Linked DNA regions of Homo sapiens. The protein of the gene in region 1 interacts with the protein of each later gene in a pairwise test. Each region holds a gene or a part of one and is shown in the gene's direction. Other genes may lie near its edges.

Region 1 (3,807 bases):
CACCTCGGCCTCCCAAGTGCTGGGATTACAGGCGTGAGCCACCGTGCCCGGCCCAGGGCTAGCTTTTTTAAGTGGAAATTGGCGCGGTGGATATGTGGCCTGAGTTACTCAGATGATGACTGTAGTCCTCTCTCTTTTTTTAATTTTTATTTATTTTTTTGAGATAAGGTCTCACTTAGTCTCCCAGACTGGAGTGCAGTGGTGCAATCATAGCTCACTGCAGCCTCAACTTCCTGGGTTCAAGTGATCTTCCCATTTCAGCCTTCAGAGTAGCTGGGACTACAGGCATGTGTCACCACACCCAGCTAATTTTATTTTTTGTAGATACATGGTCTCACTATGTCACTATGTTGCTCAGGCTGGTCTCAAACTCCTGGGCTCAAGTGATTCTCCTGCCTTGGTCTCCCAAAGTGATGGGGCTACAAGTGTGAGCCACTGCACGCAGCTGACTTTGGTTTTCATTCTTCTTTGTGGACTGGGGATGGGAGTCCAGCCTCAGGTCCCCTTCATGATGTGTTCCTGGCTGTGAGGCCTGTGCCCTCTCGTGTCCCATTGGTGGGACTCACTTTGGCATGAGGACTCACTTTGGCTCAAGGTGGTGGGCTGGCTTCTGTTCTCTCCCGAGTTTGCTCTGGGAGTCCTGTCTTCTCAGGGACCTCGCCCCTGGCCTCACCTGTCTTCTTAGAGCTAAAAGTTGATCTTCAGAGTCTGCCTCCGCCCTATTTGGCTCCTTCATTCCCTCTTGGGTCTCCCTTCCCTACTCAGGCTGGGCCCCTGCTCCGACCCCTGTCCCTGCTACCAAGACACTGGTCATGGGGGGAGCTGCAGCTCATTGCAGTGGAGGCTGGTGACTCGCAGCACAGATGGGCACTTTGCTCAAGTCTGTCTGTGTTTCAGAGGATTCAGAAGATTTCAGCTCAAGGAAGATATCTCTAAGATGGAATTTCCCATTTGGCAGGCAAGGTCTCACCCAAAGTTCCTAAATCTCAACACGGAGGTGGTAAATAGTTCACCGGTTCTGAGCGCAGAGGGACTGAGCTACATAGCAGGGGTTTCTCTTCTGGGTCCTGAATGGGTGAAATAATGAATGAATGAATTGGAGCCATGGCGAGCACGGCTGCTAAGCATGATCTGCCCAGTGCTCGAGAGGTCCCAGTCCCCTGTGCTCATCCCTAGCTGGGTATCCTCAGTAGGACGTGACAGGGGTGGGTGCAGTTTAGCAAATGGGACGGATTTAACTGAGTTTCTAGAGACTGATTCATTTCCTCGATGGCGGCAGCCTGTGCTGTCATCCTTCTCTAATATCAGAGAAGTCCTGTTCCATCTATTTTCAGCCTCCCTCATCCCTCTGCAGCCCTGAAGGTGGTTTTACTCGGAGTCAAGGTCCCAGCTGCCCCCCTACCTTGGGGACATGCCTGTTGCCTGTGACTTCCTCATTGTCTGTCACAGAGGGACTCCCAGAGCAGCAATTGCTGAGCCACCCCATCTCAGGGAAGGTGGCAGAATCAGAATGAAAGCACCAAATTAAATCAGAATTAAAGCAATAATTTATTAAATTTAATTAATAGGCTAGGCACAGTGGCTCACACCTGTAATCCCGGCACTTTGGGAGGCTAAGGCGGCAGGATTGCTTGAGCCCAGGAGTTCCAGACCAGCCTGGGCAACACAGTGAGATCTTGTCTCTACAAAAAAACTTTAAAAATAGCTGGATGTAGTGGGTACACTGTGGTCTCAGCTACTCAGGGGGCTGAGGTGGAAGGATGGCTTGAGCCTAGGAGGTCGAAGTTGCAGTGAGCCAAGATTGTACCACTATACTCTAGCCTGGGCAACAGAGCGAGACCCCATATTTAAAAAAAAGAGAGAGAGAACACAGAATGAATGCAGGCCATGGCCAGCCCTGGCAGGAGAGGAGAGATTGGGTGCCAAATCCTGAAGAAATGAGAGATGCTCCCTAAAGGGAGTCCCCCTTTAGGCTGGAAAAGCAGGATGGACTCGGGTTAGGGATGAAGGCACAAAAGGATCAAATAGAAGCATGAGGGTATGGCACAATCTCAGACTCAGATGCCTCAGAGACTGCAGGGAGCAGAGAGAGTGGGGCATTTGATGAGAGCAGGGAGAGGTGTAAGGCAGCTGTGGGTCCCTCCCTGTGAGGCCCATCTCTCAGCCCCTTGTCAGCCCTGTGAGGTCCTGGCCAGCTGCACTGTGCAGGCGGGAATGAGTTGTGTCTCTGCCCTCAGGAGCTGACCTTCTATTTGGGGAGATGACACGCACTGAAAAAAAAATGTAACTAACACCCCCCCACCAGCAGTCTATGCTCACTCTGGTTGAAGTTCAGAAGATGGTTGGGAAGGTTGGCTGTGCAGAGGGACAGGGTTTCAGCCCAACGTGCAGGGAGGGGACAATTGCTGGACGGTCAGCTTGGGGAGGGTGGAAGCTGTGCCTTTGTTTAATTTGCCCGTATTTCATCACGAACAGTGTAGCATGACGCTTGGCTCATTCAAGGCAGTCAACAAGGTCTAATGAATGACAGATGATTTGTGCAGGCAGAGACACCTGAAGATGGTGACAAAAGCCAGGAGGTGAGGAAGCTCAGAGCACGGCACTGCCAGGGACAGGATGAGACTAGCTCTGGCTAGAGTGTGGGGCTCGTGTTCGGGGGAGATTAGGCCACCCTGATGAGTTGGGGCCAGTTGGGAAGAACCTTGAATGCTGAGCCAAGTGGCTCTTTCTCTCAGCCCTCTGAAGACTCTAGCCTGTTTTCTTCCAGATAGCCCCTCCCTATTCCCCGCTCTCTCAGATATTTTTGGATGCTTCTAGAGCAGGGACTGTACTCTGAGCTCAAACAGGTGCAGACAAAGTCTGGCCTGGAGTTCTGGGCTTGTAGGAAGTGGCTTGTGCTGGGAGCTCAGGGGAGAGTCCCGGGGTTTGGGAGCCCCCGCCTCCCCCCACCACTGGATTGCTGCCAAAACTGCAGCCCCCGGTCCTCCTTCAGGTAGTCATTTGGCTAGGACCTAGGCCAGCTCAGTTTTCTCCCATAGAATTTCCCCTAGGCTGGGCACGGTGGCTCTTGCCTGCAATCCCAGCACTTTGGGAGGTTGAAGCGGGTAGATCCCTTGACCGCAGGAGTTCAAGAGTACCTTGGGCAACATGGAGAAACCCCATCTCTACAAAAAAATACAACAATTAGCCAGGCATAATGGCCTATGCGTGTGGTCCCAGCTGCTTGGGAGGCTGGAGCAGGTGGATCTCTTGAGCCCGGGAGGTCATGGCTGCGGTGAACTGTAATTGTGCCAGTGCACTCCAGTCTGGGTGCCAGAGCAAGACTCTGTTGAAAAAAAAAAAAATTCGTCTAGATGGCAATAGGTAAAGGCTTGACCAAGCCATTCCTTTGGAAGCCATGCCACTGATGGGCCTCCAACTTACACAGCATTTAGGGCCTGATGTGACCACCTGTGTCCCTGTGTCCACCAGAGAGGCCTCTAGCCAATTTGTTGATTACTTAGTGTCAAGTAGTAGATGATTACTTATTTTTCTTGCACTTACCCAAGGAGATCAAGAGACCGGGAGTGCTCTCTAGGACTTGGGAAGAATCTGGAAAAGAACTGGAGAAGTGTCAAGTACTCACCCTGTCCTGGGGAGACCATCCTGGCCTCGGGCTCCCAAGACACCAGCCCACCTCCTTTCCTGCCTTTGTTTCCTTTCCGAATTGGTAGTTAAGCTGGTGAGCACTCCACCAAGTCCCTCCTTGCTTGGCGCTGTCTACACAGAGGCAGAGCGGCTGGCCTGGGGTGGGGCCCAGCGGGAGCA
Region 2 (3,807 bases), on another chromosome or scaffold:
TCGGTGTCCCTGCCGTGTGGCCGCGTCACCCACCTCTGCCCTCGGTGTCCCCGCCGTGTGGCCGCGTCACCCATCTCTGCCCTCGGTGTCCCTGCCCTGTGGCCGCGTCACCCATCTCTGCCCTCGGTGTCCCTGCCGTGTGGCCGCGTCACCCATCTCTGCCCTCGGTGTCCCTGCCGTGTGGCCGCGTCACCCACCTCTGCCCTCGGAGTCCCTGCCGTGTGGCCGCGTCACCCACCTCTGCCCTCGGTGTCCCTGCCGTGTGGCCGCGTCACCCACCTCTGCCCTCGGTGTCCCTGCCGTGTGGCCGCGTCACCCATCTCTGCCCTCGGTGTCCCTGCCGTGTGGCCGCGTCACCCACCTCTGCCCTCGGAGTCCCTGCCGTGTGGCTGCGTCACCCACCTCTGCCCTCGGTGTCCCTGCCGTGTGGCCGCGTCACCCACCTCTGCCCTCGGTGTCCCTGCCCTGTGGCCGCGTCACCCATTTCTGCCCTCGGTGTCCCTGCCCTGTGGCCGCGTCACCCACCTCTGCCCTCGGTGTCCCTGCCCTGTGGCCGCGTCACCCATCTCTGCCCTCGGTGTCCCTGCCGTGTGGCCGCGTCACCCATTTCTGCCTTCACATCCACACAGTGTTCTCCCTGTGCATGCGTCTGCATCCAAATGTCCCCTTTTTATAAGGACATTGGTTATTGCTCTAGGGACCCGCCGTACACTGGTATGATGTCATCTTACCAAATTCTGTCCGCCAAGATCTTATTTCCAGGTGAGGTCGCATTCCAAGGTCCTGGCAGTTAGGACTTCAGTGTATGGATTTGGGGGACACAGTTCAGCACACGACAGTATTCAGCCCCTGGAGCCGCCTGTCAGCGTGGCTGCGCGCAGAGGGTCCCTGGGGCCCAGCTGGGGAGTGGGACCTGGCGGCAGAGACCCCTTGCACTGTGCTGGCTCAGAAGGAGGAGCCGTGGCCTCCTGGGTGCTGGGTCAGAGTTTCCTTGTAGGTGTTTGTGGCTTTAGTCACTTCTTGGAGAGCAGATCTGGGCACAGAGCAGAGAAGAATAAGAAATTATCCAGAGGCAGCTGTCACTGTAGAAGATTCCTTCAGGCCTCGCCCTTCCTCGTCCATCCCGAGGCTGGCGGCCTCTTGGCCAGGCCCTGTCTGACCCAGCCTGAATCCGAGCGTCTGATCTCAAACCTGTGCTTCTCCTCACGGTGGTTCCCCAGCTCCTGAGGCCTCAGGCCTGCCCCTTGCCTCATGCGTCTTGGCACACAGAGTGCAACTAAGAATAAGGTCCACTATGCACGGGCTGGGCCCGGCCCCGGAGGAAGGCCGGTGACACACAGCCCCGCCACCCTGTATGTCAGCCAGTGAGGGACAGAGATGGGGAAGACCCAGCTGCTCAGAGACACCAGAGGCCCTGGACAGGGAGTGGATTCCAGGGAAGGCGGCTGCCCAGCCCAGCCCGGAAGGAGCAGGTGGAGAAGGGAGGCCCAGCCAAGGGAACCTCATCGCAAGAACAGAGGATGGGGGTCCCATCCCACGGCCAGGGCCTCCCCAAGGGCTGCCCCTCCATGCGCCAGCACCACAGCAACCCCTCTCCATGCCTGCTTCTGGCCTCAGAGCAGGTTCTCCAAATGCTCCCAGTGAAACTGCACAGCCGGGCAGCGTTTCTGGAATAGCCTCAGCATGTGTTGATCTGGACACGGAGGGTGCACCAGCACCCGTCCACGTACCTGCCTGTGTGGGGGTGTTCACTCAGCGTTGTGCACGCCTGGTCTCGTACCCCTCCCCCCCCCCCCGATGGGGAGGTGCTGTCGCCATCCATGGGGGACAGAAGAGGAAACTGAGGCTCAGCAGAGTTAAGTCGCTTCCCCTAGGTCACACTGCCAAAAACAGCCAACCGAGGTCTATGCCACGAGACTCACCACGAGGAATCATGATTTTTTTTTTTTGACATGGAGTCTCACTCTGTTGCCAGGCTGGAGTGCAGTGGTGTGATCTCAGCTCACTGCAACCTCCAACTCCCTGGTTCAAGTGATTCTCCTGCCTCAGCCTCCCGAGTAGCTGGGATTACAGGCACGTGCCACCATGCCAGCTAATTTTTGTATTTTTAGTAGAGATGGGGTTTCACCGTGTTTGGCCAGGATGGTCTCTGTCTCCTGACCTCGTGATCTGCCTGCCTCGGCCTCCCAAAGTGCTGGGATTACAGGCGTGAGCCACCACGCCTGGCAGAATCGTGATATTAACAACAGATATCGCAGGGCGCCAAGCGCTGGGCTGACAGCTTCCGGGTTATTTTTTCCCCGACCCCTGACAGCAGCCACAATGGAGCTCCCCATTTTACAGACATGGAGGCGGAGGCTCAGGCCGAACAACCCGTCCGAGCTCACAGGCTTTGCAGGCCACGATCCGGGAACCGCCTGGCCTCTCCCTCACAACCCGGCTGGCTTAAAACAACCAAGATTGATTTCCCTCGCAGTTCTGGAGGCCAGAAGTCTGAGATGAAGGTGCAGGCTGGGCCACGTTCCCTCTGAAGGCCCCAAGGGAGGCTCCGTCCTGCCTCTTCCAGCTGCTGGGGGCCAGCGAGCCTCACCTCTCTTCGTGTGGCCACATGGCCTCAGCCTCTGCCTCCGTCTTCACGCGGCCGTCTCCGTGCGGCCATGTTCAATCCCTGCATTAGGGCCACCACAGCGACCTCATCTCCACTTGTTTCCATCTGCAAAGACACAGACAAGGTCCCGTGCTCAGGTCCCAGGTGGACGTGACTAGCCCAGAACTTGGCTGCTCCAGCGGCGGGGGCGGGGGCGGCTGCTTCTCCACGCAGCTTGTTACATCTGAATGTTTAGAGTCACCATCGCCAGCCTTCGGGGGAAATGGAGGCACAGTGAGGCCAAGCCTTCCTGAGCTGGCGCCTCAAGGCAGCCGGCCAGCCTGCCCCGGGGGAAGCTCACGTCGGGGCTTCCTGCTCAGAGCCGTGAAGGTCACTGTGGCCGAGGCCCCTCCAAGTTGGCCCAGGCACCCAGGAAACCTGTGTGAAAGGTCTTGTACTAAAAAAAGACCTGTCCATAGACTACAGCTCCAGATTCCAGAACAGCCTCTCCTGATGTCACCATCTGGCACCCTTTAGAGCTTTGGCAGGAAACTGCAGGGACCACAGACATGAGCAGAAGCAGCTGTCAAGTCCTGGGAATGAGGAACAAGACAGGGTATCCGAGGGGGGACCAGGCGGATGTCCGAGGGGGAACCAGGAGGGTTTCTGAGAGGGAACCAGGAGGGTGTCCGAGGGGGCATCCAGGAGGGTATCCGGGGGGGAACCAGGCGGGTGTCCGAGGGGGGCACAGGCGGGTGTCCGAGGGGGGCACAGGCGGGTGTCCGAGGGGGGAACCAGGCGGGTGTCCGAGGGGGGAACTAGGCGGGTGTCCGAGGGGGGAACCAGGCGGGTGTCCGGTGGGGGAACCAGGCTGGTGTCCGCTGGGGGAACCAGGAGGGTGTCCGGTGGGGGAACCAGGCTGGTGTCCGCTGGGGGAACCAGGAGGGTGTCCGCTGGGGGAACCAGGAGGGTGTCAGGTGGGGGAACCAGGCGGGTGTCCGAGGGGGGCACAGGAGGGTGTCCGAGGGGGAACTAGAGGGGGGTCTGAGGTGGAATGAGGTAGGTAGGCCTCCCAGGGGGAACAAGACGGGTCCCCAAGAAGTCCCTGGGGGGAGTCCTCTGCAAGTCCTGTGAAACAGTGATACCAGGGCAGGCACACCTGGCCCCGTTGGGTACCTAAGAAATGCTTGCTGACATGCCACAAAAGAGGTAAATTGAGG

What was found.
Region 2: the proteins of SRL (region 1) and SGTA interact in binary tests that used the Homo sapiens proteins (3 or more experiments, as listed by UniProt).

What each region holds. Positions count from the first base shown.
Region 1 is NC_000016.10:4,232,054-4,235,860, reverse strand, and holds part of SRL (sarcalumenin isoform 1 precursor), read left to right. Parts: intron 1-3,807.
Region 2 is NC_000019.10:2,769,565-2,773,371, reverse strand, and holds part of SGTA (small glutamine-rich tetratricopeptide repeat-containing protein alpha), read left to right. Parts: intron 1-3,807. UniProt on the Homo sapiens protein: Co-chaperone that binds misfolded and hydrophobic patches-containing client proteins in the cytosol. Mediates their targeting to the endoplasmic reticulum but also regulates their sorting to the proteasome when targeting fails.